2 separate regions of the Homo sapiens genome follow, and region 1 is linked to region 2. Evidence: fine-mapped expression QTL. A gene starts in region 2. The other region holds a variant in brackets. All regions are shown on one strand. Distances are from middle to middle. Region 1 overlaps TLR6 (toll like receptor 6). Region 2 holds the start of TLR6 (toll like receptor 6).

Evidence for each region. PIP is the estimated chance that this variant, and not a neighbour inherited with it, causes the effect.
Region 1: its variant is fine-mapped to the expression of TLR6 in whole blood (TOPMed, PIP 0.96).

The regions. Positions count from the first base shown.
Region 1 is chr4:38,818,462-38,834,530 of GRCh38, forward strand. TLR6 (toll like receptor 6) reads right to left here. Exons shown (of 2, transcript NM_006068.5): 2 at 4,436-11,076. The coding sequence starts at 11,012. The coding sequence ends at 8,622. Among named protein-coding and RNA genes, the nearest start is that of TLR1, 22 kb to the left of the region's middle. RefSeq lists enhancers at 1-106, 1,152-1,271, 5,276-5,445, 13,006-13,175. The variant C/A (reference allele first, on the strand shown) is at 6,896.
Region 2 is chr4:38,848,426-38,864,494 of GRCh38, forward strand. TLR6 (toll like receptor 6) reads right to left here and starts at 8,392. Exons shown (of 2, transcript NM_006068.5): 1 at 8,336-8,392. RefSeq lists an enhancer at 8,841-10,040.

The sequences.
Region 1 (16,069 bases), 30 kb before region 2:
GTCCAAAACTGAAGACAAAGAAGTATTATGTACCACATTCTATACAAAGCTGCTAGCAACTGAAGCATGTCCCCCGGGGCATTCTAAGAAGCAGTAGAACCAGATAGCACTGTCCACAGCATCGCCTCACCCTACCTTCCCCCATTCACCTGAGAATGCTGGGGAGGGTGACAAGAGAGTCAGCAGCACCAGGAGATGAGTGTTAATGATGTAAGCCTGCAAGCTCTTCTCCCTATGCAAGAGATGACATCTCTTTCTCAAGCCAAGTGAAGGGGAAATAACAGTAAAATTACTCTTAGACACGGGACAGGCAGATCAGGCATTTCTTTCCTCAAGAGGATTCTTGTTTTGATGCAGCAATGTGTAGGATCACCCTCTGAGGTTGATCCCCCTGCCCATCTGAGCAGTATTAGAGAACATTACACGTGCCCCCTGGGGGTTCAGGAGTGTAAATTAGTAGAGCGACTGGTGTCTACTCTGTTGGAGATTTCCATTGGACCAACCCTTGCCAACTGGCAATTAGAGACTGTGGTATCAGGTACCTGGGAAAGGGGGTGTATCTCCACCTCAGCATCCCATGGGCCACACACACACAAAAAGGCACAGGAGGGCTTCATCAGCTCCTGTGGCTCCATGCAAGGGAGAATGGAGGCCATAGGATAAGACCAGAGCTATAGGAAACAGAGACATCTGGTCATCCTGAGCCCTTGAATGATTTTGTGGAATAGAGACAGCTTACCTATTCTAGACCTCTTAGCTATACTTTTTTCTATTATATGAGAAAGAAATAAACCTCAATCTTATTTAAGCCTCTGTATTTGAGGTCTCCCAGTCCTGCAGCTTAGACTGTACCTTAATCGACACAATTATAGAAAAGGATATCTGCCTTCTTACCACTCATCCTTGATCTCCACTTCAGGGAGCTAGATCTGGGAGAGGGAGGGGCAAGAAGAGTGTATCTCAGATAAACCATGCCTACCTCCAAAATATATGCCAAGGTTGAGCTACAGACCTAGCCTGTGACATGCAGAAAGAAGATGAGTTTTAGATGAAGATGGAGATTTAGAATTTTAAACTAGATTGGAGTATCAGTATCTCAAAAGGACTGCAGAAGTATTAAATCTGCTCAAGATATCACTAAGGAGTGACAAGAGGGGAATTTCAGAATCCAGTTGATGGAATGACTGAGAAAAATAAACACTACTTCACATTTGGACTAGATGATGTTGAGATTCCTCATAAACTAACCGTAATTGAAACTCTCAGAAAGTCCCTGTGGTTTTAGAAATCCCCTCAGGTCTTTTACTCCCTGTAGTTTAGTCTCATTCCTTTCTAATCAAACCAGTCCCCAGAAACCTAGACAGAAATACCTCCTCCTTTCCCCATATTTGTGGTCTCATTCTCTTTAAAACTCCCACACTCTCACCGTTTATATCCCGGGTCTCCATCCACTGTCTCTTTCCTGTGCTCTTACACCCATCCACTCTATTCTCTTTGCCTATTACTCCTTTCTTTGTACCTCTGACTTTCCAAGCAGCTTCTTTTAGAGTCTTCACTCTTTCCAGGATAACATTTCTTTTCTGCTGCCACACTCAACTGAGTCTCCAGGGCATCAGAGCTGGTCATGCCAACTCCAGAGGACTGGGTTGAATAGTGTCCTCCACCCAACCTCCAAACATTTATGTCCATTTATTTCAGATTTATTCTGAAATCTCAGAATGTGACCTCATTGAAAAAAGAGTCTTTGTAGATCTAATTAAGTTAAGGACCAAGATGTGATGGCATCAGATTAAGGAGGCTCCTAAATCCAACTAGAGTGTCCTTGTAAGAGACAGGAAAAAAAAGACAGAGACTTGGAGGAGAACACCATGTGAAGACACAGGCACAGATTATTGATTATTTAACCCAAATTTGGGATACATTTTTTTAGATTGCGCATCTGCCATGTATGTCAATAGCCTACCAATAATTTTGGTTTCTCTTCTCATCTGTTGGTTCTACTGATTACGTAATAGGGTGTTGACTGGAACTTTTCTTATGACTTGGGTCCAAAACTAAAGACAAAGAAGTATTATGTACCACATTCTATAGAAAGCTGCTAACTACTGGGGCATGTCCTCCAGGGCATTCTAAGAAGCAGCTGATGCATCTGCAAACCAAGGGACGCCAAGGTTTGCCAGCAACTACCAGAAGCTAGGAGAGAGGAAAGGGATGATTTCTCCCTGACAGCCTCTGGAAGGAACAACCCTGCCAACCTTGATTTCTGACTTCTGCCTTCCTGAACTGGGAGAAATATATTTCTGTTGTTTTAAGCCACCCAGTTTGTGGTAATTTGTTTTGGTAGCCACAGGAAACTAACACATCCAGCAACACTGCCAATTTGATGCTTTCTTCGCTCATGGTATTCTTTCACTTCCAACTTTGCACCCACTGTGCCCTCCCCTTTGAAGGGTCTTCCCAGCCACATGCCCAGGACCCTTCCCAGCCACATGCCCAGGATCCTCCTGATGAAAGATCTTTCATCAAGGCTCATCCTAGCAGCCCTCCCTGGTCACTAACCTAGGTTTCTTATCTCTTTTGCTATGGTCTGGATGTTTGTGTGCCCCTCAAAATTCCTATGGTGAAATCCTAACCCCCAAGGGGATAATACAATCAGCCCTTCATATCCATGGGTTCCACATCCATAGATTCAAACAACCATGGATTGAAAATATTCAATAAATGAATAAATAAATAATAACAATATAATAATACAAAATAATAAAAATAAAAGACCATACAGTTTAACAACTACATAACATTTACATAACATTTACATTGTATTAGGTATTGTAAGAAATCTAGAGATGATTTAAGTATATGAGAGGATGTACATAGGTTATATGTAAATAGTACACTTTTTTTTTCAGAGTCAGTGTCTTGCTCTGTTGCCCAGGCTATAGTGCAACGGCATGATCATAGCTCACTGCAGCCTGGAATTCCTGGGCTCAAACAATCCTCCCACCTCAGCCTCCTGAGTAGTTGGGACTACAGGCATGTGCCGCCAGGCATGTATTTTTTTTGAGGAGGTGGGGTCTCACTATGATGCTCAGGTTGGAAGTATGCCATTTTACATAAGGGACTTGAGCATTCACAGACTTTGGAATCTACAGGGCTCCTGGAACCAATCCCCTGTGGATACGGAGAAAGAGCTGTATTAAGAGTTGGAGATGTTGGGAGACAATTAGGTCATGAATGTGGAGCCTTCATGAATGGCATTAGTGCCCTCCCCCAGGTGAGGATACAGTGAAAAGACAAGCCATCTATGAACCAGAAAGTGGGCCCTCGCCAGGCACCAAATCTGTCAGCAGCCTGACCCTGGACATTACAGCCTCCAGAACTATAAGCCATAAATTTCCATTGTTTATAAGCTACTCAATTTGTGGTACAGTCATGCAGTGCATAACAATATTTCACTCAACAGTCATGGCCCTATAAGATAATAATGGAGATGAAAAATTCCTATGGCCTAGTAACATTGCAGTGCAATGTATTACTCACATGTTTGTGGTGATGCTGCTGTAAACAAACATACGACACTGACAGTCATATAAAAGCACAGCACATACAATTATGTACAGTTCATAATACTTGATAATGATAATAAGCAACTATGTTACCGGTTTCTGTATCTAGTAGACTATAATTTTAATCATTATTTTAGAGTGTGCTCCTACTTATTTTTTTAAAAGCTAACTATAAAAATCCTCAAGCAGGTCCTTCAGGAGGTTTTCCAGAAGAAGGCATTGTTGTTACAGGAGATGATGGCTTCATGCATGTTATTGCCCCTAAAGACCTTCCAATGGAACAAGAGGTAGAAGTAGAAGACAGTGATATTGATAATGACCCTATGAGTAGGCCTAGGCTAGTGTGTGTGTGTCTGTGTGTGTGTCTCAGTTTTTAACAGAAAAGTTTAAAAAGTGAAAAATAAAAATAAAATATTTTAAAAATAGAAAAAACAAAATAAAGATGTAAAGAAGGAAAATATTTTTATATAGCTGTAGAATGTGTGTTTTAAGCTAAGTGTTATTGCTAAAGAGCCAAAAAAAAATTTAAGGCAAAAAGTTGATAAAGTAAAAACATTACAATAAGCTAAGGTTGACTTCTTACTAAAGAAAGAAAACAATTTTAATAATTTTTCTTACTAAAGAAAGAAAACAAATTTAATAATTTTTGTGTGGCCTATATGTACAATGGGACTTATAAAGTCCACAGTGGGACATGGTAAAGTCCACAGTAGGATATGGTAATGTCCTAGGCCTTCACATTCACTCACCCCTCACTCACTCACTGACTCACCCAGAGCAACTTCCAATCCTGCAAGCTCCATTTATGGTAAGTGCCTGTATTCGTTCATTTTCATGCTGCTGATAAAGACGTATCTGAGACTGTGCAATTCACAAAAGAAAGAGGTTTATTGGACCTACAGTTCCACAGAGCTGGGGAAGCCTCACAATCATGGCAGAAGGCAAGGAGGAGCAAGTCACATCTTACATGTCAGCAGGGAAGAGAGAGAACTTGTGCAGGGAAACTCCCCCTTAAAGAACCATCAGATTTCATGAGACCCATTCGCTAACAGGAGAACAGCACAGGAAAAGACCCGCCCCCATGATGCAATCACCTCCCACTGGGTCCCTCCCACAACACGTGGGAATTCAAGATGAGATTTGGGTGGGGACACAGCCAACCCACATCAGTGCCCTATACAGGTGTACCATTTTTTATCTTCTTTACCATATTTTTACCATACCCTTGCTATGTTTAGATATGTTTGGATACACAAATACTAAGCATTGTGTTACAATCACCTAGAAGCAACAGGCTATACCATAAGCCTAGGTGTGTAGTAAGCTATGTCATCTATGTCTGTGTGAGTGCACTCTATGATGTTCAACCAAAGTCAAAATTACCTAACACACATCTCAGAACTTAGTTAGAGCAGCCCAAACGGACTGACACCTTTCCTCATCCAAACTCATCTCTGCCATGCCCCATTCCTTTTAACAGGTCATCTTACTACGGGATCTATTGTTTATTCTTATCACAGTGTTAAGAACTGAAAACGTGTTGAGGCAAACTTACCAAATTGTGGCATTGGACGGGGGAATGAGAAGGAATAGTGCAAACATGGATGGAGGAGATACTTTATTTGTATGGATTTTTGTTTTGTTTTGCCTCCTTTTCGCTTTTTTGTTTTTCTTTGTTTTTTGTTTTAGGTCTTTCTGGATCAATTTTTCAACCTCCCAGAAACGACGGCAGGGAAGATGCCTGACCCTCAAAACAAAAGCGCGCATCCTACCGGGGCAATGGGCCCCGTGGGACGAGGTGCAGGGCCGCTGTGGGGCGGGCAGGTGAGGCACAGAGAAGGGCTCACCCAGCCTCCGAAAGGCAGCCATTCCCTTTTCTCAGTGTCCTGCTAAACCTGGAGCCGGGTCGCCCCAGCATCTTCCAGTGGCAGATGGGGAGGAGCAGCACCCACCGCGAAGGTGTCCACGGCCAAGGTCGGGCGCCCGGGCCGCCCAGGCACTGCGGCGGGGACGAGCGGCCAGGAGGCAGCTCAGCGTGGAACTGTAGCCCCGCCGCCCCCGCCCCCCCCTGCCTGGGCTTTTTAGATAAAATCCAGGACTTCATGGACATTTCCCGCATGGGACCGTTTCAGAGTCATTTGCTCATCCCACGAGTTTTTACTGCGCATCTACAATGGGGTGCACAGTGTCCCCTCGGCACTGGGGAGAGGCAGGGAACAGGTGGAGAAGTCTCCCTTTTTCCTGGAGCTTAGACTTCAGAGGAGAGAAGAAGAAGATGAGTAAGCAACTAAGCAAACAAGATAATTTTAGACAGTGATGTGTTCTGTGAAGAAAAGAAATGGGAAGAATGTGACGGAGAGGACTGTGAGGAACCTACTTTCCACTGGGATGCAGGGAGGCCCCTCTGCCGAGGGGATGTAGGTTTAACAAAATTAATGCTAAAATTCTATATTTTCAATGTCAACAATATTTTGTGGGAAACATTGATACCATTTAAAAAGATCTGATTATTTAGAATCTGTGGCAGTTTTTTTTGTCGTTGTTGTTACTGTGGTTGTTTGTTGTTTTTATTGTTTTTAGATTAGGCAACAGTTTAAAAAATCTGTTCAACAGGGGTTGTGGAAGAATGTGCCGTTTGGGATAGAGCCTAGGGAGGAAAACAAATGTTGTTCTCCTGAAGAGCAAGGAAGGGCTAATGCAGACAGAAGATGATGCTAATAAAATATCATTAAGGCTTATTTCGTTACAGCTATTATGAAACCAGATTTTTTTTCTTTTAACTTTTTTGAGATGGAGTCTCACTCTGTTGCCCAGCGGGGAGTACAGTAGCGCTGTCTCAGCTCACTACAGCCTCTGTCTCCCAGGTTCAAGTGATTTTCCTGCCTCAGCCTCCCGAGTAGCTGGGACTACAGGTGCACACCACCACACCCGGCTAATTTTTGTATTTTTAGTACAGACAGGGTTTCACCATGTTGGCCAGGCTGGTCTCGAACTCCTGACCTCAAGTGATCCACCTGCCTCAGCCTCCCACAGTACTGGGATTATAGATGTGAGCCAACGTGCCTGGCCGAAACTGGTTTATTGAATGAACTAAGTCCAGAAAGCGAGGGCTTCATTTTTCTCTAACCATTGCCTTACAACAAAGTTCTGTTGGATCTCCTCCCATCATCACTCCTGAATCTTGGGCAGATACCATAAATTTTAGTGACAAATCTCACTTTAGTCATTGCACCTCTATTTAAGGGATTAAAATGTCCAGGCCAGTCCAATTTAACAGCAATCTCACACCTCATTCAAAAATCTGCTTGGCCTTCCTTGCAGTGAAATGA[C/A]GAAGGCATATAGTCAGTTTCTTTACTCTTCCTCCATTGTCTCTGTCTTCTCTATATTCTAGATGTCCCTATGCCATTGCAAGGGAAGAGGGTATTACACAAAGAGGAGCAGATCTTCCTGTAGTTAACTATTGAATAAGGCAGACAGGCCAGCATGATCCTGCCAGCTGCTATGGCAGAGTCCAAATGCTGGCTTTTTCATAGGGCACATCTGTGAGTTATTGGAGGGCCTTGAGTGTACCCCACATTGCACAGTTCCATGATGCAGGGCCACATTATCTGGCTGACCTCTTGCAGCAACCTCCACCCCAAACCCCTCTTCTGCCTAACCCCGTGTCCTCTTACTGCTATAGTTTCTTTGCACAACAGGCTACCCTGTTGGCTGATATCCCGTCATGACAATGCAAGCCCAGCTACTCTTCCATAGTCAAAGCCATGTGAAGAAATTCACATCCTTTTACCATGTCAATAATGGGAGGGCAGGTTGCTATCAGTGCTTCTCTTCTCTCATCCTGCCATTTTGGGTGCTCAAGCCAACCTTTCACCTCCTGAATTCCCCAGGGGGGAAGAACTCATCTATTCATTCAACAAATATTCATCAAGCACTTGTATTTGCCAAACACTATTTACCAGTCTCTGTGTTCCCAGTGCCCACCCTCGGACTCCAGCAAACACTCATCAAGCTCTTCCAAGAATTCTCAAGCCACACCACATCTGCTGCACTGAACCTGTGTGCTCCTGTTACTCTGCAAGCTTTCAGTCTTGGAGTGGGATGCCAGGCTACCTTCTACCATGCTGAGTCCCTCACACTTGTCTGCAAGAAATTCAAAGCAATCTCCCTATGGCCTAGAACCTCCGCTTAATGACTCTTTAATCACGCTTTTGACTCTAGTCTTCTAGAGATGGATAATACGGACTGGGAGTCATTGGTCTCTTTCTGCTCTTTTGATAAGTCCAGACTGGCTGTGTCTAGTATCATGTTGGTGCAGTTACTGTCTTTCGTCAGCTTTGAGCCTTTAGCCAGAATTCTAAGACAACCAGAAAAGTCCCATTCAATATCCAGCTGCAAATAAATTTGGCCGAGTTTTCTTGGAAAGCAGGTGGATCCACGTCTTTCACCTCAACAGCTTATGATTAAGTCCATATATCCCTTTACATACATACACTATCAAGTCATGAGTCCTCATTGGTTAATTACATATTTGTGTAGCAGGATAAAAAATTAAATAAGCTATTACACATATGTGAAACAAAAGACTTTTTTATATGCCGTAGCTGATCTAATTTTTTCCCCAAGCCCCAGACTTGAAGAGAATGATGACACTGACCCAAAGACCAATATGATTCACAGGGCACTCCGAGGACTGGTGCATATGATGCTGAAGTTGACTGTTCCCTTGCTGCCATGAAGCCATATAAACTCTTGCTCACAACAGAATCCATTTGGGAAAGCAGAGTGGAGAGGAGCTGAAAAACTGAGCATTTACTCAAAAGAGACTGTTTCAATTTGAAACATAATGATTAAACCAGAAGAGACTGGGCTGTCTCTAACTGGCAGGCTAACCTCACCGCCTAGCTCAGTTCCCCAGATGAAACATTGTTTTTGTTAAGTCTTTCCTGAAGGCATGAGGATAATGGAGGCACCTCCAGACAGTTACTTACGACTGTACTATTCACCATCATCCAAGTAAATAATGGTTTCTTAAGTTGAATTTCCTAAATTTTTTTAAGATTTCACATCATTGTTTTCAGTGACTAGTGTTAATTTCATATTAAAAGCGGCTCTAATGTTAGCCCAAAAGAGCCCACGTTTGCTTTTCTCCTTGGGCCACTGCAAATAAGTCCGCTGCGTCATGAGAGCCTTCAGCTTGTGGTACTTGTTGGGAATGCTGTTCTGTGGAATGGGTTCCAGTAAGATGAGGATTAAGTTATTAGATCCTTCATGAAAGAGATTGTGATGGGCAAAATAGAGTTCGTAATGGCACCACTCACTCTGGACAAAGTTGGGAGACAAAACAAAGATGGACTTGTAACTCTTCTCAATGCAGTTGATGATATTTTCCACAATGCTCTTGCCAGGGACAAAGTTTCTCTCATGAAGACAAATCTGTATATCTTCTTTTTCTAGGTAAGGTACCAATTCACTTTTCACCCAGGCAGAATCATGTTCACTATATGAAATAAAAGCATGAAACTGGAGGTTTCTTTGGAGTTCTTCTAAGGGTATGTTCCTGGCCCTGCGCCGAGTCTGGGTCCACTGGCACACCATCCTGAGATACCAGGGCAGATCCAAGTAGATGCAGAGGGAGGTCACAGTCACAGCCAACACCAGCATGGTGGCACCGATGGTGACGATCAGCAGAGTTATGTTGCAGGATAATTCAGACATGTGAAAGTCCTTTAGTGGGCTTCCTCTATAACTTTCTGGGTAGTCACACTTATAAGAATCAGGCCAGCCCTCTAACACTTCACTTGATACTTGGTCTATATTTTTGACAAATTCTCTTAGCTCACAGGTACATTGGAATGGATTGTCCCCTGCTTTTATTGACCTCATCTTCTGGCAGCTCTGGAAGAAATCAGCCGATGGGTGGGAAACTGAATTGTGATCAATGATCAATACAGAAAGGCTGCTAAAGCTGCCACATCCAGGAAGGTCAGTTAAAGAATTGAAAGCAACATTGAGTTCTTGCAAAGCTTCCAGTTTTACGACTTGTTTAGGAACGCTCTTTATTTTATTGCTGTGAAGATCAAGTACCTTGATCCTGGGAGGTAAACATCTGAAAACAGAGTCAGTAAGCATATTTGAAGACAAATTTAACACCACTATACTCTCAACCCAAGTGCAGTTTTCTTTATGTCTACCAGATTCCAAAGAATTCCAGCTAACATCCAGTATTTCCAAAGAAGGCATATCCTTCGTCATGAGACCTACTTTGAAAAGGTCTTTTAATCCATTCTTTTGTAAGATAAGTGTCTCCAATTTAACTAACGTGGAACATTTTTCAAAAATACTATCTGTGAAAACGTTCTGGGTAAAGTTCAAAAACTTGAATGTGCTTGGTGCATGAGGACACAGCATGTGTATAAAAGGTGTATCTGAAATGGTTAACATCATAATGTTCATCTCAGAAAACACGGTGTACAAAGCTGTCTGTGAAAACAGAAAAACTTGGTTCGTGATATGTTCTATTGTCAATGCTTTCAATGTCGTTTTAGAATAAGTAAAATCTTCTTCACGAATGCTTTCAATTATTGTTAAATTGTAAATATTGAGATATTCCACAGGTTTGGGCCAAAGAAATTGAAAGACTCTGACCAGGCATTTCCAAGTCGTTTCTATGTGGTTGAGGGTAAAATTCAGTAAGGTTGAACCTCTGGTGAGTTCTGATAAAAATTTAATGAAAACTTGACAGTTGTCATCATTCAATTTAATATTAGTCAGTTGTAAGCACCCTAAAGTATTAACTGATATGTTCACTTGGATAGCGAATAAACTAGTTGGGTGAAAAACAAGGTGAAGGGTTTTTGCATTCAGAATTTGTAGACTTTCTGTCTCATTTTCTTTTATATAATAATTTCTTAAATCCAGAAGGATATAACTTAGATGCAAGTGAGCAATTGGCAGCAAATCTAATTTTTGCAGCTTCATAGCACTCAATCCCAAGAAATTCAGTTGTGATAAGTTGCCAAATTCCTTACAGATGGGCAGGGCCTTGAAATCATTGAATGAGAGATCTAAATGCCTGAAACTCACAATAGGATGGCAGGATATCTTTTGCAACTGATTATGAGATAAATCCAAATATTCTAAATCCTGGTTGAACTTGAAAACACTTAAATCAAGTAGCTGGATTCTGTTATGGGAAAGTCTCAAAACTGTCAACTCTGATAGAAAGCTCATGTCAGAGACCTGAAGCTCAGCGATGTAGTTCTGAGACATATCTAAGACTTTGGTTTTCAGCGGTAGGTCTTTTGGAACATGAATAAGACCTCTTTTTGACTTGTCTACTGCAAATTCATTTCCGTCGGAGAACTGGATTCTGGTTCCAACTATTATGATCATAAGGCAAACAAAATGGAAGCTTTTAACAATAGGTTCTTTGTCTTTGGTCATGATGTTGCAGTGGCTATCCTAAAGGGTTGTTCTTCTTCAGAGCATCTTGATATGAGTCCAAATTCTAGAAATATAATATACACTAAGATTAATAAAGATCGGATGGTTACTCTCAAACCTCCACTTACTAACCATAAAATCTAAATGATTTCTTCATTCACTAGTAGAGTCATTTCTGTCCCCATAATTTAATGTAATACTTTTTATAACCAGTTATATAGCTTGCTCATGCCAGAAGGGGCAATATAGGCCTTGTTATCAAAGAATTGTGGTTGTGTGTTTTGACCTGTCTGGTTGCTGCCTGAGGGATTCACACTCAGGGGCTTGCCTTTGTTTTGTACACCTTAGAACTTTCTCAGGGCTGGAACAGCCTTCTGGCTGGTGTTTGCTGTAAACAATTAAAGGCAAACATACTAGCTGCAGCCACCTGAGCAAGGGCTAACAGAGGGGGCAAGCAGCAGACACATCAAAAAGTCTGGGAAATATGCAAAGATATATGGAGAAAGATATGTGGGAGAAAAAAGGCTGAGGAAATCTCTGTATATACCAGGGAGTCCAGAAGTCCACTCACGTGCCCAAGGCTGGACGCATGTTCAGAGGAGACCTGAGAAAATCCTAAACTTCACCTCTGGCTCATCTTTAGCTTCCATGCATGCAGAAAGTGAAGGCTAAAGCAGAGCTGTGAATAGACTGGCTAAGCATTGAGAAAGTGATCCAACACAGCCAACCTGCAAAGATCAGGGGTGTTTTTGTTTTTGCTTTTGCTAGTTTATTTGGTTTTTGTTTTTGCTCCAGATGTTTAAAGAAATCTCAAGTTACTGGCTGACCACTAAGCTAACTGGACAGAAAATGTAATAGCCACACATGACAAAGAATAATCTTTATAAAAATTATTTAGAAAAGTCATTAAACAAGCAACTATAAGCCACAAGAAGCAACAATACACCCTGGGAAAGGGAGGCCCGGCACAGTGGCTTAAGCCTATAGTCCCAGAACTTGGGGAGGGCAAGGCAGGTGGATTGCTTGAGTCCAGGAGTTCAAAGCCAGCCTGCGCAACATAGTGAAACTCCATCTCTACAAAAAATACAAAACTTAGCTGGGCATGGTGGCGTGTGCCTATAGTCCCAGCTACTTGGGAGGCTGAGTGGGAGGATTGTTTGGGGCCGAGGAAGTCGAGGCTCCAATGAGCTGTGATTACACCACTGCACTCCAGCCTGGGTGACAGAATGAGACCCTGTCAAAAAATAAATAAATAAATAAATAAAACACCTCTGGGAAAGGGGGACAGAATTTGATTTCTAGAGTTACCTCATTGTAGTGTTTAAAATGTCTGATTTAAAAAAATAAAAATCAAAACAAAATAATCACTAGCCCCCAGATTTGCCAGTGGACTTGCTCTACGTTTTGCCCTGAAATAACACAAACCTTGCAAAAAGCAAATGGAAAGAGATTGTTATCTTTTTGATTGTGTAACTTGGCATTAAAGGAATCTCTAATTTATTTGTTTAAAAAAATTAGCCATGCAAAGAAACAGAAAGTATTGTTCATTCACAGGAAAAAAAAAAAAAAGAAATTAAAAGAACAAAGCCAGATAACTGACACCACCTAACATTGAGACTTGCTACAAAGCTACAGCAATCAAGGCAGTGTGGTTTTGGTGAAAGAATAGACAAATAGGTCAAATGACCAGAATACAGAGCTTAGAAATAGACCCACAAAAAAATAATCAACTGCTGTTTGACAAACGAGCAAAGGCAACTCAGTGGAGAATGGATAGTCTTTTCAACAAATGGTGCTGGAACAATTAGACCTCCACATGCAAAAAAAAAAAAAGAAGAAGAAGAGAAAGAATTTAGACGCAGACCTTACAGTTTTCACAAAAATCAGCTCAAAATTAACCATAGACCTAAATGTATAATGCAAAACTATAAAATTTCCAGAAGATAACATAGGAGAAAATCTAGGTGACTTTGGATTTGGTGATGACTTTTGAGATACGCATCAAAAACATAATCCAAGAAAGAAAACACTGTTAAGTTGGACTTCATTAAAATTAAAATTTTTGCTTTGCAAAAGACACTGCAAGAGAGTGAAAAAGACAAACCACAGACTCAGAGAAGATATTTGCAAAACCCATATATGATAGGGACTTGTATCCAAACTATGCAAAGAACTCTTAAGCTCCACAATAAGAAAACAAACAACCTAGTTTTTAAATGGGCACAAAAATCTAAACAGACACCTCACCAAAGAAGATATGTAAAGAGCAAATACACATATACATAGCTATTTGACATCATATTTCATCATGGTTTTGCAGATTAATACAGCAATGAAATTACATTACACTTATGAGAATGGGTAAAATCCAAAAACAACATCAAATGTTGGTGAGGATGTGGAGCAACAAGAACTCTCTTTCACTGTTTGTGGGAATGCAAAATGGTGCAGCCACTATGGAATGCAGTTTCTTATAAAACTAAGCATAGTCTTATCACACAATCCAGCAAATCACATTCCTGGGTATTTAACCAAAAGAACTGAAAATTTATGTCCACATAAAAGCCTCCATGTGGATGTTTATAGAAGCTTTATTCATAACTGTCAAACATTGGAAGCAACAAGATATCCCTCAATAGATAAAAATATTAACAAACTGGTACATTCACACAATAAAATACTATTGAACAATTAAAAAATGAGCCGGAGAAGCATTAAAATGGCTGAATAGAGGCACCTAGCCCTCACCCCCTCTGCAAAGAAGGACCAAAACAGTGAGCAGATAATCACACATTGAATGAGCATCTAAGAGAGAACACTGGAATTCAGCGGAGAAGTGACAGTGCACCTCTGAGGCATGGGAGAAGAGGGAAGTGAAGCAGCCAGCCCAGCTGGGACTAGCTCAGAACCAGGAGGAACTTCCCATTCCAGGGAAAGTTTAACTGAGAGATCTTCAGAGGTCAATGTTTCCACTATGGACTCCTGTAATCCTAGCCATGAGCTAGCTCCTTGGCCTTCACATGCCCTGGGGCTGTCTGGAATATATGCAATCACATTGTTCCACAATGGGACTTCACATTGGGTCCCACATACCCCATACCCTGAGACCCAAACAGCTTCAGCATAAGGCTCTTTTAAGAGCCCAGCCCTCACCATACACATCCTGTTCTGGGGCCCAACAACCCTGAATCTCCACACCCCTGAAGCCCCACTGATATTCTCCTACGTCCACCTAGAGGGCTACAGCATTGTAATGCCAGCTAAGATCAGCAGTGCAGCTAGGTCCCCAGCACTCTAGCCCATGCAATGCCCCGCATCCCAGGAAACAGGAAGCACAGTGCACCTAGTGGCTTTCCCTGGGACAAAGGGAGTCAAAGTGTGCATTCCCCAGAGCCTCAGAGTTACCTGCCCAGGGCCACCGCCACTTACAGCAACCCCATCTTCCCTAGCAGCAGGACTACGACACATCTACACATGCCTCCAAGGGGCCTGAGGACAGGTCCACCATGCCCTTTGCTGCTAGTGCCTGCCTGCCACTGCCATGGCAGGGCAGTGCCACACAGGGTGTGGCACATGCATGCCACACGGGGTCCTGAGGACTGGCTTGCCCAGCCTGCTGCTGCCTGTGTCTACCACTTGGGGGCCAGAGGGTTGGTCCACTTTTCCTACTGCTACAGTTAATGCCACACAAATTGTGCAGGGGCCCAAGAACCTGCCCTCCCACTTGGTCCATTACTGCCACTGCAAGCATCCAACTAAATCTCCTGGAGGCTCAAGGACCCATCACCACGAGTGCCCACATATTTCACACAGGGGCCTGAGAACCGGCAAGCCTAGGCCACTGCTGCCACCACTGTTGCCTGAGAACAGGCCTGCCTGGTGTCCCCATCCCCAGCAAAGCCTTGCCATAGTGTCTGCTGACAACTGTAACCTAAGCCACTGAGGAACCCAAATGCCACTGACACTGATGACAGGTGAAGAAATCATACAGAAACTACACTGCTGTGCCCACTCAGAATCAAAGCCAAAGCACCCTATACTCAACTAACACTATAAAAACACCTAGAGGCAAAAGTCTTTCCCTATCAAAGCCAATCCATAAAATTGGAAGCAGCAGCTATTACATCAGATCCATAGATATCAACATAAGGACACAAGAAATACAAAAGTGCAAGGAAACATGAAGCCTCCAAAGGAACACAATAATTCTCTAATAACAGATCTCAACAAAAAGAAAATCTATAAAATGCCTGAAAAGTAATTCAAAATAATGATACTAAAGAAACTCAGTGAGTTACAAGAGAGCATAGATAAATAATAAAAGAAATCAGAAAAATAATTTATGATCTGAGTCAGAAATTCAACAAAGAAATAGATATTAAAAATAGAACAAAACAGAAATTTTGGAACTACAGAGGTCAATAAATGAAGTAAAAAAATATAATCAAGAGCTTGTACAAACAATAGACTAGGCCAGGTGCAGTGGCTCACAACTGTAATCCCAGCACTTTGGGAGGCTGAGGTGGGTGGATCTCCTGAGGTCAGGAGTTCGAGACCAGCCTGGCCAAAATGGTGAAACCATATCTGTACTAAAAAAAAAAAAAAATTACAAAAATTAGTTGGGCGTGGTGGCAGGCACCTGTAATCCCAGCTACTTGCGAGGCTGAGGCATGAGAATTGCTTGAACCCAGGAGGCAGAGGTTGCAGCGAGCTGAGATTGCACCACTATGCTCCAGCCTGGGTGACAAGAGCAAAACTCCAGCTCAAAAAAAAAATATATATATAAAATTAAAAATTAAAAAACAGTAGACTAGATTGAGCAAAATAAAGAATTTCTGAACTGGAAGACAGGTCTTTTGAAATAACCCAGTGAGGCGAAAAAAAAAAAAAAGGAATAAAAAAGAATAAAGAAAGCCTATGGAACACCATTAAGCAAACAAAATTCACATTTTGGGAGTTCCAGAAGCAGAAGAGATGAGCAAAGGGATAGAAAACATGTTTAATGAAATAATAGCTAAAAACTTTCCAGGTCTTACAAGAGGTATAGACATCCAGAT
Region 2 (16,069 bases):
GGAGAGAGAATGACTTTGACATGTTGAGAGATGGCTTCAGACGATCAAACTTCTCCAACTAAAGGAGGAAGTTCGAACCCATTGCAAAGAAGCTAAAAACCTTGACAAAAGATTAGACGAATGGCTAGCTAGAATAAGCAGTGTAGAGAAGTCCTTAAAGGACCTGATGGAGCTGAAAACCATGGCACTAGAACTATGTGACGAATGCACAAGTTTCAGTAGCTGATTTGATCAACTGGAAGAAAGAGTATCAGTGATTGATGATCAAATGAATGAAATGAAGTGAGAAGAGAAGTTTAGAGGAAAAAGAGTAAAAAGAAACAAACAAAGCCTCCAAGAAATATGGGACTATGTGAAAAGGCCAAATCTATGTCTGATTGGTGTGCCTGAAATTGACGGGGAGAATGGAACCATGTTGGAAAACATTCTGCAGGATGTTATCCAGGAGAAATTCACCAACCTAGCAAGGCAGGCCAACACTCAAATTCAGGAAATACAGAGAACACCACAAAGATACTCCTCCAGAAGAGCAACTCCAAGACACATAATTGTCAGATTCGCCAAAGTTGAATGAAGGAAAAAATGTTAAGGGCAGCCAGAGAGAAAGGTTGGGTTACCCACAAAGGGAAGCCCATCAGACTAACAGCTGATCTCTCGGCAGAAACTCTACAAGCCAGAAGAGAGTGGGGGCCAATATTCAACGTTCTTAAAGAAAAGAATTTTCAACCCAGAATTTCATATCCAGCCAAACTAAGCTTCATAAGTGAAGGAGAAATAAAATCCTTTACAGACAAGCAAATGCTGAGAGATTTTGTCACCACCAGGCCTGCCCTAAAAGAGCTCCTGAAGGAAGCACTAAACATGGAAAGGAAGAACCGGTACCAGCCACTGCAACAACATGCCAAAATGTAAAGACCATTGATGCTAGGAAGAAACTGCATCAACTAACGAGCAGAATAACCAGCTAACATCATAATGACAGATCAAATTCACACATAATAATATTAACCTTAAATGTAAATGGGCTAAATGCTCCAATTAAAAGACACAGACTGGCAAATTGGATAAAGAGTCAAGACCCACCAGTGTGCTGTATTCAGGAGACCCATCTCACGTGCAGAGACACACATAGGCTCAAAATAAAGGGATGGAGGAAGATCTACCAAGCAAATGGAAAACAAAAAAAGGCAGGGGTTGCAATCCTAGTCTCTGATAAAACAAACTATAAACTAACAAAAATCAAAAGAGACAAAGAAGGCCATTGCATAATGGTAAAGGGATCAATTCAACAAGAAGAGCTAACTATCCTAAATATATATGCACCCAATACAAAGAGACTTAGACTCCCACACAATAATAATGGGAGACTTTAACACCCCACTGTCAACATTAGACAGATCAACGAGACAGAAAGTTAACAAGGATATCCAGGAATTGAACTCAGCTCTGCACCAAGCGAACCTAATAGACATCTACAGAACTCTCCACCCCAAATCAACAGAATATATATTTTTCTCAGCACCACACTGCACTTATTGATAACATAGTTAGAAGTAAAGCACTCCACAGCAAATGTAAAAGAACAGAAATTATAACAAACTGTCTCTCAGACCATGGTGCAATCAAACTAGAACTCAGGATTAAGAAACTCACTCAAAACCACTCAACTACATGGAAACTGAACAACCTGCTCCTGAATGACTACTGGGTTCATAAAGAAATGAAGGCAGAAATAAAGATGTTCCTTGAAACCAGCGAGGACAAAGACACAACATACCACAATCTCAGGGACACAGTTAAAGCAGTGTGTAGAGGGAAATTTATAGCACTAAATGCCCACAAGAGAAAGCAGGAAAGATCTAAAATTGACACCCTAACATCACAATTAAAAGAACTAGAGAAGCAAGAGCAAACATATTGAAAAGCTAGCAGAAGGCAAGAAATAACTAAGATCAGAGCAGAACTGAAGGAGATAGAGACACAAAACACCCTTCAAAAAATCAATGAATCCAGGAGGTGGGTTTTTGAAAAGATCAACAAAATTGATAGACCTCTAGCAAGACTAATAAAGAAGAAAAGAGAGAAATATCAAATCAACGCAATAAAAAATGATAAAGGGGATATCACCACTGATCCCACAGAAATACAAACTACCATCAGATAATACTATAAACACCTCTATGCAAATAAACTAGAAAATCTAGAAGAAGTGAATAAATTCCTCGACACCTACACTCTCCCAAGACTAAACCAGGAAGAAGTTGAATCCCTGAATAGGCCAATAACAGGCTCTGAAATTGAGGCAATAATTAATAGCCTACCAACCAAAAAAAGTCCAGGACCAGACGGATTCACAGCTGAATTCTACCAGAGGTACAACTAGGAGCTGGTACCATTCCTTCTGAAACTATTCCAATCAATAGAAAAAGAGGGAATCCTCCTTAACTCATTTTATGAGGCCAGCATCATCCTGATACCAAAGCCTGGCAGAGACACAACAAAAAAAGAGAATTTTAGACCAATATCCCTGATGAACATTAATACAAAAATCCTCAATAAAATACTGGCAAACTGAATCCAGCAGCACATCAAAAAGCTTATCCACCATGATCAAGTGGGCTTCATCCCTGGGATGCAAGGCTGTTTCAACATACGCAAATCAATAAATGTAATCCAGCATATAAACAGAACCAAAGACAAAAACCACATGATTATCTCAATAGATGCAGAAAAGGCCTTTGACAAAATTCAACAGCTCTTCATGCTAAAAATTCTCAATAAATTAGGTATTGATGGGACGTATCTCAAAATAATAAGAGCTATTTATGACAAACCCACAGCCAATAGCATACTGAATGGGCAAAAACTGGAAGCATTCCCTTTGAAAACTGGCACATGACAGAGATGCCCCCTCTCACCACTCCTATTCATATTCAACATAGTGTTGGAAGTTCTGGCCAGGGCAATCAGGCAAAAGAAAGAAATAAAGGGTATTCAATTAGGAAAAGAGGAAGTCAAATTGTCCCTCTTTGCAGATGACATGATAGTATATTTAGAAAACCCCATCGTCTCAGCCCAAAATCTCCTTAAGCTGATAAGCAACTTCAGCAAAGTCTCAGGATACAAAATCAATGTACAAAAATCACAAGCATTCTTATACATCAATAACAGACAAACAGAGAGCCAAATCATGAGTGGACTCCCATTCACAATTGCTTCAAAGAGAATAAAATACCTAGGAATCCAACTTACAAGGGATGTGAAGGACCTCTTCAAGGAGAACTACAAACCACTGCTCAATGAAATAAAAGAGGACACAAACAAACATTCCATGCTCATGGATAGGAAGAATCAATATCATGAAAATGGCCATACTGCCCAAAGTAATTTATAGATTCAATGCCATCCCCATCAAGCTACCAATGACTTTCTTCACAGAACTGGAAAAAACTACTTTAAAGTTCATATGGGGTCAAAAAAGAGCCCATATTGCCAAGTCAATCCTAAGCCAAAAGAACAAAGCTGGAGGCATCATGCTACCTAATTTCAAACTATACTACAAGGCTACAGTAACCAAAACAGCATGGTACTGGTACCAAAACAGAGATATAGATCAATGGAACAGAACAGAGCTCTCAGAAGTAATACCACACATCTACAACCATCTGATCTTTGACAAGCCTGACAAAAACAAGAAATAGGGAAAGGATTCCCTATTTAATAAATGGTGCTGGGAAAACTGGCTAGCCATATGGAGAAAGCTGAAACTGGATCCCTTCCTTACACCTTATACAAACATTAATTCAAGATGGATTAAAGACTTAAATGTTAGACTTAAAACCATAAAAACTCTAGAAGAAAACCTAGGCAATACCATTCAGGACATAGGCATGGGCAAGGACTTCAAGTCTAAAACACCAAAAGCAATGGCAACAAAAGACAAAATTGACAAATGGGATCTAATTAAACTAAAGAGCTTCTGCACAGCAAAAGAAACTACCATCAGAATGAATAGGCAACCTACAGAATGGGAGAAAATTTTTGCAATCTACTCATCCAACAAAGGGCTAATATCCAGAATCTACAATGAACTCAAACAAATTTACAAGAAAAAAATAAACAACCCCATCAAAAAGTGGGCGAAGGATATGAACAGACACTTCTCAAAAGAAGACATTTATGCAGCCAAAAGACACATGAAAAAATGCTCATCATCACTGGCCATCAGAGAAATGCAAATCAAAACCACAATGAGATACCGTCTCACACCAGTTAGAATGGCGATCATTAAAAAGTCAGGAAACAACAGGTGCTGGAGAGGACGTGGAGAAATAGGAACACTTTTACACTGTTGGTGGGACTGTAAACTAGTTCAACCATTGTGGAAGACAGTGTGGTGATTCCTCAGGGATCTAGAACTAGAAATACGATTTGACCCAGCTATCCCATTACTGGGTATATACCCAAAGGATTATAAATCATGCTGCTATAAAGATACATGCACACACATGTTTATTGTGGCACTATTCACAATAGCAAAGACTTGGAACCAACCCAAATGTCCATCAATGATAGACTGGATTAAGAAAATGTGGCACATATACACCATGGAATACTATGCAGCCATAAAAAAGGATGAGTTCATGTCCTTTGTAGGGACATGGATGAAGCTGGAAACCATCATTCTCGTAAACTATCGCAAGGACAAAAAACCAAACACCGCATGTTCTCACTCATAGGTGGGAAATGAACAATGAGAACTCTTGGACACAGGAAAGGGAACATAACACACTGGGGCCTGTCGTGGGGTGGGGGGAGGGGGGAGGGAAAGCATTAGGAGATATACGTAATGTAAATGACGAGTTAATGGGTGCAGCACACCAACATGGCACATGTATACATATATAACAAACCTGCATGTTGTGCACATGTACCCTAGAACTTAAAGTATAATAATAAAAAAAAAAGAATGCACACATTGTTCTTTCCGGAAGTTTTAACCACTGTAATAAAGAAAAAAAATGACAGGAAGAAATACTGAAATGAAGAAAGAAAATCATTATTATTTTTAGATTATAAGACTGTCAATGTGGAAAGCCAAAGAGAAGTCATTGAAAAAATGTTAGCACCAATAAAAGACTACAATAAAGTGGCCGTCACAAAATAAATTATTATCATTACTATTTTCTTAAACACTTTCTTTTTAAGAGACAGGGTTTTGTCCCACTGCCCAGGCTGGAGTGCAGTGGCACAATCATAGCTTAAGGTCCTGGGCTCATGCCATCCTCTCACCTCAGCCTCCCACGGAGCTGGGGTTACAGGTACAAGCCACTGCTCCTGGCAAAAATAAATTCTATTTTGAAAACAAATCCCTCAATTATCCAAAAATAGCAGGTTATCAAATAAATTTTAGTATCTCTGTATAATTAAATAGTACTATGTAGCCTTTAAAAATAATAAAAATCGAATTGCATGAAAATATTTTCACTATATGTGACAAAAAGCAGTTTATTTAAAAAGTACCAAAGTAAATATGTACCTATGCAAGTAGAAAAATTAATAAGATACATACCAAGATATGAACAGTAATTATCTTTGCACAGTAAGATTATAATGGAACTTTATTTTCCTCTTAGTTTTTATCTATATTTTTCAAACTTTTAACATTCAAAATTAAGTTTACTGTACTATTTACTGAATAATTTGCCAAAAATCAATTGCCAATAATATGAATAATGTGCAATCTCACAAAAAATAAAACAGCACGTTAAATCAAAAAAGCACATAACATCTAGATGAAACTCATGATCTTGGATTAGATCTCAGTTAAGACAGACTTGCTATAAAACATATTCAGTAACAGAAGGAGGGGCAGATTCTATGATGGACCAGCCATTAGATGCTATTAAGAAATAAATTGTAATTTTTTATAATGTTATTTGGCTATTTTAGGAAAATGTAATTTTTTTAGAGATAGAGAATAAAGCTTTTAGAAATAGGTTTCCAGAATGCCTGTTATTTTTACTATAAGATATTTAAGCATAAAAAGAGGAAGGGGGTCAAAGGAGGACTCTTGTTTCTTAAAAGATTTTTTAAAAGGCAAGATTTTTTTTTCACCTATCAAATAGGGAAAATTAAAAAATATAATATCCAGGTTGGTAGGTGGAAACTAAAATAAGAACCCTCATTTACTACTTAGGCAGGAATGAAAAATTAGTACAAGCTTTCTAAAGGGTAATTTGGTAATTTACATAAATTTCTTAAAAATATACCTTCCTTTATTTTAGCAATTCCACTACAAGGAATTTTCTAAAGAAATAGTCAAAAATAACACACAGAAGATATGACTATAAGGATACTCATGACATAATGAAATATTGAAAAAATCAGAATGTCTAGTGTAGAAAATGATTAAATCAGTTATGTATAATTAAATAATAGCCTCAAATACTGTACTTTGAAAAAATGATAATGTTAAATGAATACAGTAATAGAAAATTATGGCCGGGCGCAGTGGCTCACGCCTCTCATCCCAGCACTTTGGGAGGCCAAGGCGGGTGGATCACGAGGTCAGGAGATCGAGACCATCCTGGCTAACGGTGAAACCCCGTCTCTACTAAAAAAAAATACAAAAAAATTAGCCGGGCGTGGTGGCGGGCGCCTGTAGTCCCAGCTACTCGGGAGGCTGAGGCAGGAGAATGGCGTGAACCCGGGAGGCGGAGCTTGCAGTGAGCCGAGATCGTGCCGCTGCACTCCAGCCTGGGCGACAGAGCAAGACTCCGTCTCAAAAAAAAAAAAAAAAAATTATATATGTAGTAAGACTCTAATTTTGCAAAATATGATTAAAACCTGACATATACGTAAAAGCTAGAGGACAAACAATGTGATGAAATATACCAAATACTAATAATAGTGGTTCTCTGAATCTCTGAATTATAGATGAATTTAATTTTCTTTCTTATACTTTCAGATATCCCTAAAATGTCTCATTTTGAATGTCCTTTATAATCCAAAAAAGTTATCGTAAGGCAATTTAAGAGTTGTCTTTATAGCTGTGTGAAAATATTTTATATTTAAAGAAACGTGCTTGTTTTATTTGGAATATTAAAATATAAAGATGGAGAACTTTCAGATAATAGTAGATAACTGGCATTCACAGATGAGGACCTACCCTACAGGTCCCCGGCAACCAGACCCACGGTGTCTGGGTTCATGGGACTGAAAATCAGTCACCAGGTGGAAAAGCTGGTCAGCTGTCCTTATGGTATCCTGCCACAAAAACGCAATATTCCTCCAGAGGCGTTCATACCCTGAGGCAGTTCCTAGGGAATACACTAAATGAACAAGATAGTAACTTTTCTATTTATTGGGAAAAAAGGAGGGAAAAATGGGAAGATGAGAGTGGAAGATTAGAGAGTTCACAGTTTTTTAAAGAAAGTAAAAATAAACAGGTAAATGCTCTTGATTTTTTAAATGCATCAAATAAAAAGGGTGAGGAAATAGATGAAATAAGCTACATTTCAGAAAAAAAGGGTAGACAAGACCTATGAAAATTAAAACTACAAGGAAGAAGAGAGCAGAAAAAAAATTAAGTGAAATAAGTGGAGGAAAGATCACATAATCAAGTTAACAAATAGGCAAGAAAAACATTGTTTCATTTGTCAAACTGAAGGTGGAAGGACCTGGAGGAAGGCAATTGCTACACTGTGCCAGATTCAAGCTTGTGAAGGGGCTTGGTCCCGGCCACTTCCTCCATTTAATAAATGTTTATTCAGAGTCTATTTTTCTGCCAGTGCCATGCTACGCACTAGGCACCAGGGATATAAATATGAATAGGACTGACATAATTCCTGCTTTCAAAAAGCTTATGAATTAGGGACAGACACAGACCAGCAAACTGTTACAGTGACAAACGACAAGGGAGATCAAACACACGTCTGCTGTAAAAACATATAATAAATAGGTGCCATATCAGTGGTATATAAAAATTACTGTTAAATGTTACTGAAAACAATAAACTAGAGAAAGACGAAAAGAGAAAATTCGCTGGGCCAAATCAGAAGAAATAAATAACATTAGTTTTGTTCCTTAATTATCACCACAAGCGCTAGTTGTTTTCTATCTTTTCAAGACAGCTGTAAAGACGCTGCTCTTCATCCTGCTCGTGAAATTCAAAGGACATTTGCAACATCTACAAAAAAAACCACTTCAAATCATTTTGCAAAAATTTCAAGGAAACATTACCTATTTCCTATATAATGAATGGTTAGCAAACTTGCTTACTTGAAGCACCTGTGCCATAATGTGAAAAAGCCACAGAAGTCTTTCTACTTACCAAGATCTCTTTTTCAGAAGAAGAGAAAATAACTTGTAAATGAACGGAAATACAATTGAAAATGCTTGACAAACACAAGTTCTTAAAGTTGAGTAAAGCGGTACCTTAGAAACAGATTGGTGCCATCTGTTGGCCCACACTGGAATTACTCCTACGTATATTTTTACCTTTCAAAGGTCCGGAGGTGAGTTAGCAGTTTTTTCTGGGCTACAGACAAAACCAGTAATCCAATTTTCTAATTCGTGTGAGGAAGCAACTTACAAACAATTCAATGTGAAGAAAAATATTTTTCTAAGGTAATATTTCTCTGTAAGAGTTTGCAGCCTGGTTATTACATTTGTCACCTGAGTGGAAAGTTATTTTAAACAGCCTGTTTTCTATTATCACCATATTTAACATTTCAAGAATAATTGCAGTTTCCCTTATCAAGCAATTTTGAGCATTATTTTAGCTGGATGAGATAGTTTAAAATAAAATAAGTATAGTTCCACAATTTGGGTTTTTTTTTAAAAATCAACTTCTAAGGAAAGTTTACTGGTTGATACATATTTATGACTACATATTTAGCCATATGTACGAGCAATCATACCCACATTCTGATCAACATTTGGTGTTATTAAATGGTTTAGATTTTAATTTAGGAATAATAAATAACACTGAAATCCTGCAAGACTAATTTAAAAATCAATTTTCTAAAGACCATTTAGAAGAATTTCAGAATGACATCAACAAAGGCTGATTACCAGAAGTCTCTGGTTAAACAGAGACTTCTGGTGGACAGTAAACCCTTTTCCCCAGACTTCTTGCTTAACTGAGTTCTGCAAAGGACAGAAGGCATGAGTGAAACAATCATTCTATAATTTATCTCACTGTCTGGCACAATCTCATCTTTATTAAAAAAAAAACAACAACAAGTTAAGACCTTACAATTTGGCTAATGACAAAGTTGGACATCTCCGTAAGAATCACTTCTGCTTTCAGGAGGAAGAGAAAGGCTGGCTTCTTGTGATTCATCCTTACTCATCAAACATAACAGGAAGTCTCCTCAGGCCTGGGGAGGCTCAGTAAGGAGTGGATGGATCTCTGCTCCACTGGCAAAAGGAGACAGCCAGAAAGCAGCAGGTATCTGTGACCCTGGAAAACCAGATTTGTGAAACAAGCCAAGGGAAAGGGCTGGCTGTGGCTCTGAGGGAATTTCAAGTAACCGTGGACTAAAGTCTTAAGAAAACAGACAACTATCACTGCAGATCTGGGCACATTGACATGTCTCATTAGGAGATTGCATCACAACACCAATGTTCAGAAACAAGGAGACTATTCTTGTCGAGGCTGTCATAACTCAGAAACGTCTGTAAGGGGATGACAAAAACACAAAAATCAAGTAATAGCGAAGATGGCAATGACAGTTAAGCAAACAAAGAAACAGACAGTACTGGGCCGAACCTCCACTTGGCCACTTACTGTGAGGCTTGGGACAAGTCCCTTAACCTCCATTTATTCATCCACAAAATGGGAGTACTTTTAGGAAAGATAATGAATTTAAAGTGGCTGGAATAGTGACTGACACAGAAGAGAAGTCATAATAGTAAGGAGTTTGGTGCAAATCATATAGTTTTTTTGTATGCTGAGGGGTAAAGATTTCAGGATATACTATGAAGTGAAGAAAATCAAGGTGCAGGCTGGGCACGATGTCTCATGCCTGTAATCCCAGCACTTCGGGAGGCCGAGGTGGGTAGATCACCAGAGGTCAGGAGTTCGAGACCGGCTTGGCTAACATGGCGAAACCCTGTCTCTACTAAAAATACAAACATTAGCTGGGTATGGTGGCAGGCAACTGTACTCCCAGCTACTCGGGAGGCTGAAGCAGGAGAATCATTGGAACCCAGGAGGCAGAGGTAGCAGAGAGCTGAGATTGTGCCACTGCACTTCAGCCTGGGCAACAGAGTGAGACTCTGGCTCAAAAGAAAAAAGAAAGAAAGAAAGAGAGAGAGAGAGAGGGAGAGAGAGAGAGAGAGGGAGAGAGAGAGAGAGGGAGAGAGAGAGAGAGAGAGAGGGAGAGAGAGAGAGAGAGGAAGAAAGAAAGAAAGAAAGAAAGAAAGAAAGAAAGAAAGAAAGAAAGAAAGAAAGAGAGAAAGAAAGAAAGAAAAGAAAGAAAGAAAATTAAGGTGCAGAACTGTAAGAAGAGTATGACATCAATTGTATAAAATCTAGCCATTTACACAGGTTATCTTCTTGCCAGGCATTGCTGTGACTACTTTCCAAGTATTAACTCATTAAGGTGCTGTGAGATAAGTACTGTCACGTCATCTCCACTTAGCGCAGCTGGGTAATCGTTCCAGCTTGCACTGCTGGTCAGTGGTGGGGGTGGGATTCGAACCCAGGCAGTTTGGCCCCAGTGCCTATGCACTTAAGCATCATACTATGCTGCCTTAGAAGACACCCTGTGTCCTCATAAGACACACAGAGAAGAGAGATACAGAGAAGCAGAGCATTTGCAAACAGAGGCAGAGACTGGGGTATTGCAGTCACAATGCAAGGGATGTCTGGAGCCACCAGAGGCTGGAGAGAGCATCACCCTATGAACAGCTTGATTTTGAACTTCTAGCCTCCAGAACTCTGAGAGAATGAATTTTTGTTGTTTTAAGCCACACAGTCTGTGGTGATTTGTCATGGTAGCCACAGGAAACTTAATACAAGGGTCTACATACATATGTTGATAGAGGCATATGAATCTTTTTTTCTCAAAAGATACATAAGAAATGTTCACCTTTGAGCAGAAGAACTAAGAGAAATAGATTATTGGCCTTTTTTTTTTTTTTTTTGAGACAGGGTCTCGCTCTGTTGCCCAGGGTGGAGTGCAGTGGCGTGATCACAGCTCACTGCAGCCTTGACTTTCCCCACTCAGGCGATTCTCCCACCTCAGCCTCCCAAGGATCTGAGACCACAGGCATCCACCACCATGCATGGCTAATTTTTATATTTTTTTGCAGAGACAGGGTTTTGCCATGTCGCTCAGGCTGGTCTGGAATTCCTGGGCTCAAACAATCCGCCCACCTCAGCCTCCCAAAGTGCTGGAATTACAGGATTGAGCCACCCCGCCCGGCCTCTTCACCATTTTATGCTTTTTGTCCTATTTGAATTCTTCACTATATATAGATATGTATATATGTCTTAATTTTTAAAAAATAGTGTCACACTGGGTTAAGTATTATAAACATAATCTGAGGCCACCCAATACACTGTCCCAATACAGACACAGGCAAAACATTATTTTGATGACTTTTACTTGTTAAAAAATGTTGTCTTTCTCCAGATAATAAATAAATAAATAAATAAATATTAGTGTCTACCAACAGCTTTAAAGTAAGTTTTGTGACAATTATCAATATCATAAGATACACATACGACAGAGATAAGATTGATAATTTTGGCTGGGCGCAGTGGCTCACACTTGTAATCTCAGCACTTTGGGAGGCTGAGGCAGGCAGATCACCTGAGGTCAGGAGTTCAAAACCAGCCTGGGCAACATGGTGAAACCCTGTCTCTACTAAAAATACAAAAATTAGCTGGATGTGGTGGCTGGCGCCTGTAGTCCCAGCTACTCAGGAGCCTGAGGCACGAGAATCACTTGAACCCAGGAGGCGGAGGTTGCTGTGAGCTGAGATCGTGCCACTGCACTCAAGCCTGGGCAACAGAGCGAGACTCTGTCTCAAAAAAAAAAATGCTAATTTATATATTAAGTATTGATAGTAAACCTAAACTTCTCTGCTGAATTAAAAAAAAAAAAAAAAGACAAGCCGCAGACTGGGAGAAGGTATCTGCAACTTGTATAATCACAAAAGTGTTAATATACAAAATATATAAAGATTTCCTACAAATCAATTTTAAAATGACTAACAACCCCAATGCGGGGAAATGAGCAAAGGAGATCAACAGATGGATAACAGAAAAGGAAACAGAAATAGCTCAAACACATGGAAAGGTATGCATCCTCATTAGAACATGGGAAAATACAAATTAACACAACCAGGAGACACTATTGTACACCCCTAAGGTGGACAAAATTTAAAACATCTAGTAATACAAATGGTGGCCAGAACATGAAGAAACAGGAGCTCACATACATGTCCAGAGATGCTGATGTAAGTGGTCTGGGAGGGGCCGGGCATACGTTTTATTTTGAAAGCTCTTCAGGTGAGTCCATTTCATTGTAACCCCATGAAAATCAGGGGACTGAGACCTACACGCTGGCCTGAGCACAGCGCCCTCTAGTGGTCTATATCTTCTTGGGTGCACCCTTCACACACCAGAGCCTGGGAGGTGGTGCAGGTGTTCTTGACTCTCACTGCTACTTCCAGATCACTTTCCTTCCTCCAAACCCACCCCTTCTCATTGCAGTCATCTAGTGAGCCCCATCACTTCATCAAGTATTCTAGCAGTACTCACTATTTCAATCCGATACCACCCCTTTCATAATTCTAGTGATTTCCATAGCTACATAGAGACTCTTCCATTCACCTGGCCTCTGAGTTCTTGGACATTCTCTCTTCTAATAATCTTGTCCTGCACCCTACCTCAGTCATGCATTCCCTTATTATATCCTAGATATCATTATTAGCAATGGCTGCACCCCCTCCATAATCTCAGTTGCCTGAATCCCACTTTCCTTCTCTCACCTCCAACTCTTCCTCCAGTGCCAACGATTCCCCAGCCCCACTGCACTGGACTGAAAGATCATGCTCCATCCTCTTCATTATTCTTCTGCAGCTACTTACTCCTCTTTCCTCAACCCAGTTTAAATCCAGCTCTCCACTGGACTACACTGAGCTTGAGTGGCTGAATATAGTTGGAGAAAATACACACCCATGCTGACTGGCTTACTTGAAATGTATGACTAGATCCCAGCCTCAAGAGAGCAGCCATCCTCCTACCCTCCTTACTACCCTTCCCTAGCCCCTTCACTCTCCTGTTCTCCTCTTTCACACCTCCTCTTGTCTCTTTCACTTCCAAAATCTCCTTCTCGTGTCTAGGTCCTCTTTATCTCTCTGGCATGGATTACCCAAGGCTCAGATTTGGACCACTTCTTTTCTAAATCCATGCATTGTCATCTGGGTCCGTGGCTTCAAAACTATCTGCTTGCTGATGTCTCCTCAATTACCAGCTCCAGGCCAGACTTCCCTGAACTCCAGACTCTCACATTCAACAGCCTACTAAATAGTTGCTAAAACATTCTTGTTGAAAACCAACATTCTCACGCGATGATGCTTCATTTTCACAATGAAAATAGATGCTACCAGAGGAGCATTTCCACATCTTCCCCTGAAATTCTATAAGCCTCCCCTGCATGAGTTCTACCTGAACTCTTGCTGTCCTTCGGAATGAACTCTCTGTGCCAAGAGCCAGCCCCTTCCCACTGAGCACTGGGTCCCCTTCCTGCTCATCTACTCAAGGAAGTCACTCTTGCAATGATCTTCTCTCTACTGTATCAACATTTTTCTGCTCTGATGTATTATTCCAATCACATTTTTTTTTATTTTAGATAAGGTTTCACTCCCATCACCCTGGCTGGAGTGCAGTGGCATGATCTTTGGCTCACTGCAACCTTCACCTCCCAGGTTCAAGGGATTTTCTTGCCTCAGCCTTCTGAGTAGCCTGGATTACAGGTGTGTGCCATCACTCTCCGCTAATTTTTGTATTTTTAGTACAGACGGGGTTTTGCCATGTTGGCCAGGCTGGTTTTGAATTCCTGGCCTCAAGTGATCTGCCCGCCTCAGCCTCCCAAAGTGCTGGGATTACAGGCGTGTGCCACCACACCTGGCCCCAATCACCATTTTTTTTTTTTTTTTTTTTTTTGAGATGGAGTTTTGCTCTGTCACCCAGGCTGGAGTGCAGTGGTGCAATCTCAGCTCACTGCAACCTCCGCCTCCCAGGTTCAAGCAATTCTCCTGCCTCAGCCTCCCGAGTAGCTGGGACTACAGGCACGTGCCACCACGCCCAGTTAATTTTTTGTATTTTTAGTAGAGACAGGGTTTCACCCTGTTAACCAGGATGGTCTCGATCTCCTGACCTCATGATCCGCCCGTCTTGGCCTCCCAAAGTGCTAGGATTACGGGCATGAACCACTACACCCGGCCCCCAATCACATTTTAAAGCAATAATTTCTCCCATCTAAAAAAAAAAAAAAAAAAAAAAAACTCCCTTTGAATCCACAACCTTCCCCTCCTTGCTCCTCTATATACCAGAACTCCTTGCAAGAGCTTTTACTGACTATCTCTAATTGTTCTCCTCTCATTCTCTTAAATGTACTTCAGTCAGGTTTCCTTCCCCACCGGTCAGAAGAAATAGCTCTTTTCAAGGTCACCAATGATCACCACATTGCCAAATCCACGGTCAATTCTCAATTTTTAGCTTCTTTGAACTATTAGCAGCGTTTAACACAGTTGAAAGATCCTGAAATGTTTTCTTGCCTGACTTCCTAGACCCCATATCCCACTCCCCACTCTCCCTTCCCTGAATTTCCTGCTAACTCATTGGCATTCCTTCCCAGTCTCCTTCTGGGTCCTCTTTATATCTCTGGCATGGAATACCCAAGACTTAGTCTTGGACCACATCTCTAACTCCATGCACTCTCATCCTGGTCCTTCAAACCAGGATGAAGTCCCAGACTTCCCTGAACTTCAGACTCACATTCAATAGCCTGCTAAATGCTTGCTAAACCATTACTGTTGCAAGCCAAATGCCTGAATCTTTACTACCTCTAACTCCAAACCTGCCCCCTCTTGCATCCTTCCTCATATCAATAAATGATATTTCTACTCTTCCAGTAGTGCAGACTAAAATCCTTGGAGTGATTAATGATTAATTTCTCTTTTGCTCAAACTCTACATTCAATCTATAGGCAAATTTTGTTGGATTTTTCTTTGAAATATGTCCATAAGCAAACACCTCTCATGTCCCCCACTACTCCCATGGTGGTCAAAAGCATCATCATCTTTCACCTGGATAACTGCAATGGCATCCTAACAGGTATGCCAGCCTCCATCCTTCTCTCCCCTCCCACCTTCACCCAATTCCAATATGACTAGAGTCAGATACTAGAATCATACTCAAAAGCCATAAGGGTGCCAGTCTCACTCAAAGTATAAACCAAAATCCCTCTGCCCATCTCTCAGCCTCCACTACCTCTATGGCCTCATTTTCTTCTACTCTTCCCCATCCTCCCTCTGCTCCAGCCACACTGGCCACCTTACCTTTCTGTGAATGCATCATCCATGCTCCCAAACTGCCTGAGACTGTCTACAGATATGGCCACTGTTCATTTCCCTACTTCCTTAAAGTCTACATTGCAATGCCACTTTATCAGTAAGGACTTCCTTGACCACAGTTGGTCCTACCCATCATTCCCTAAACCCTGTAGATTCTATAGCCTGCTTTACTCCACCACCTCATATAGACCCTCTAGTTAGGGTCTATCTCCCTTTCTGTGGAGTGTAAGTTCTTGAATACCAGGAGTTTGCTTTGCTTCTTTTGTACTCCAAGCACCTACAGCCGTATTTGGTACACAGTGCATGCTTTCAGAAAGGTTATGTTGAATAAATGGTTGACCCATAATGAAGGGCGACTCAGCAATGTCTAGTAAAGGGGAACCAGCTATTCCATTTTTTTCCTAGATACTAAAAAATATATTCAAAGGTGGCAATTGTAGCATTATATGTAATTGAGTGAAATATGAAG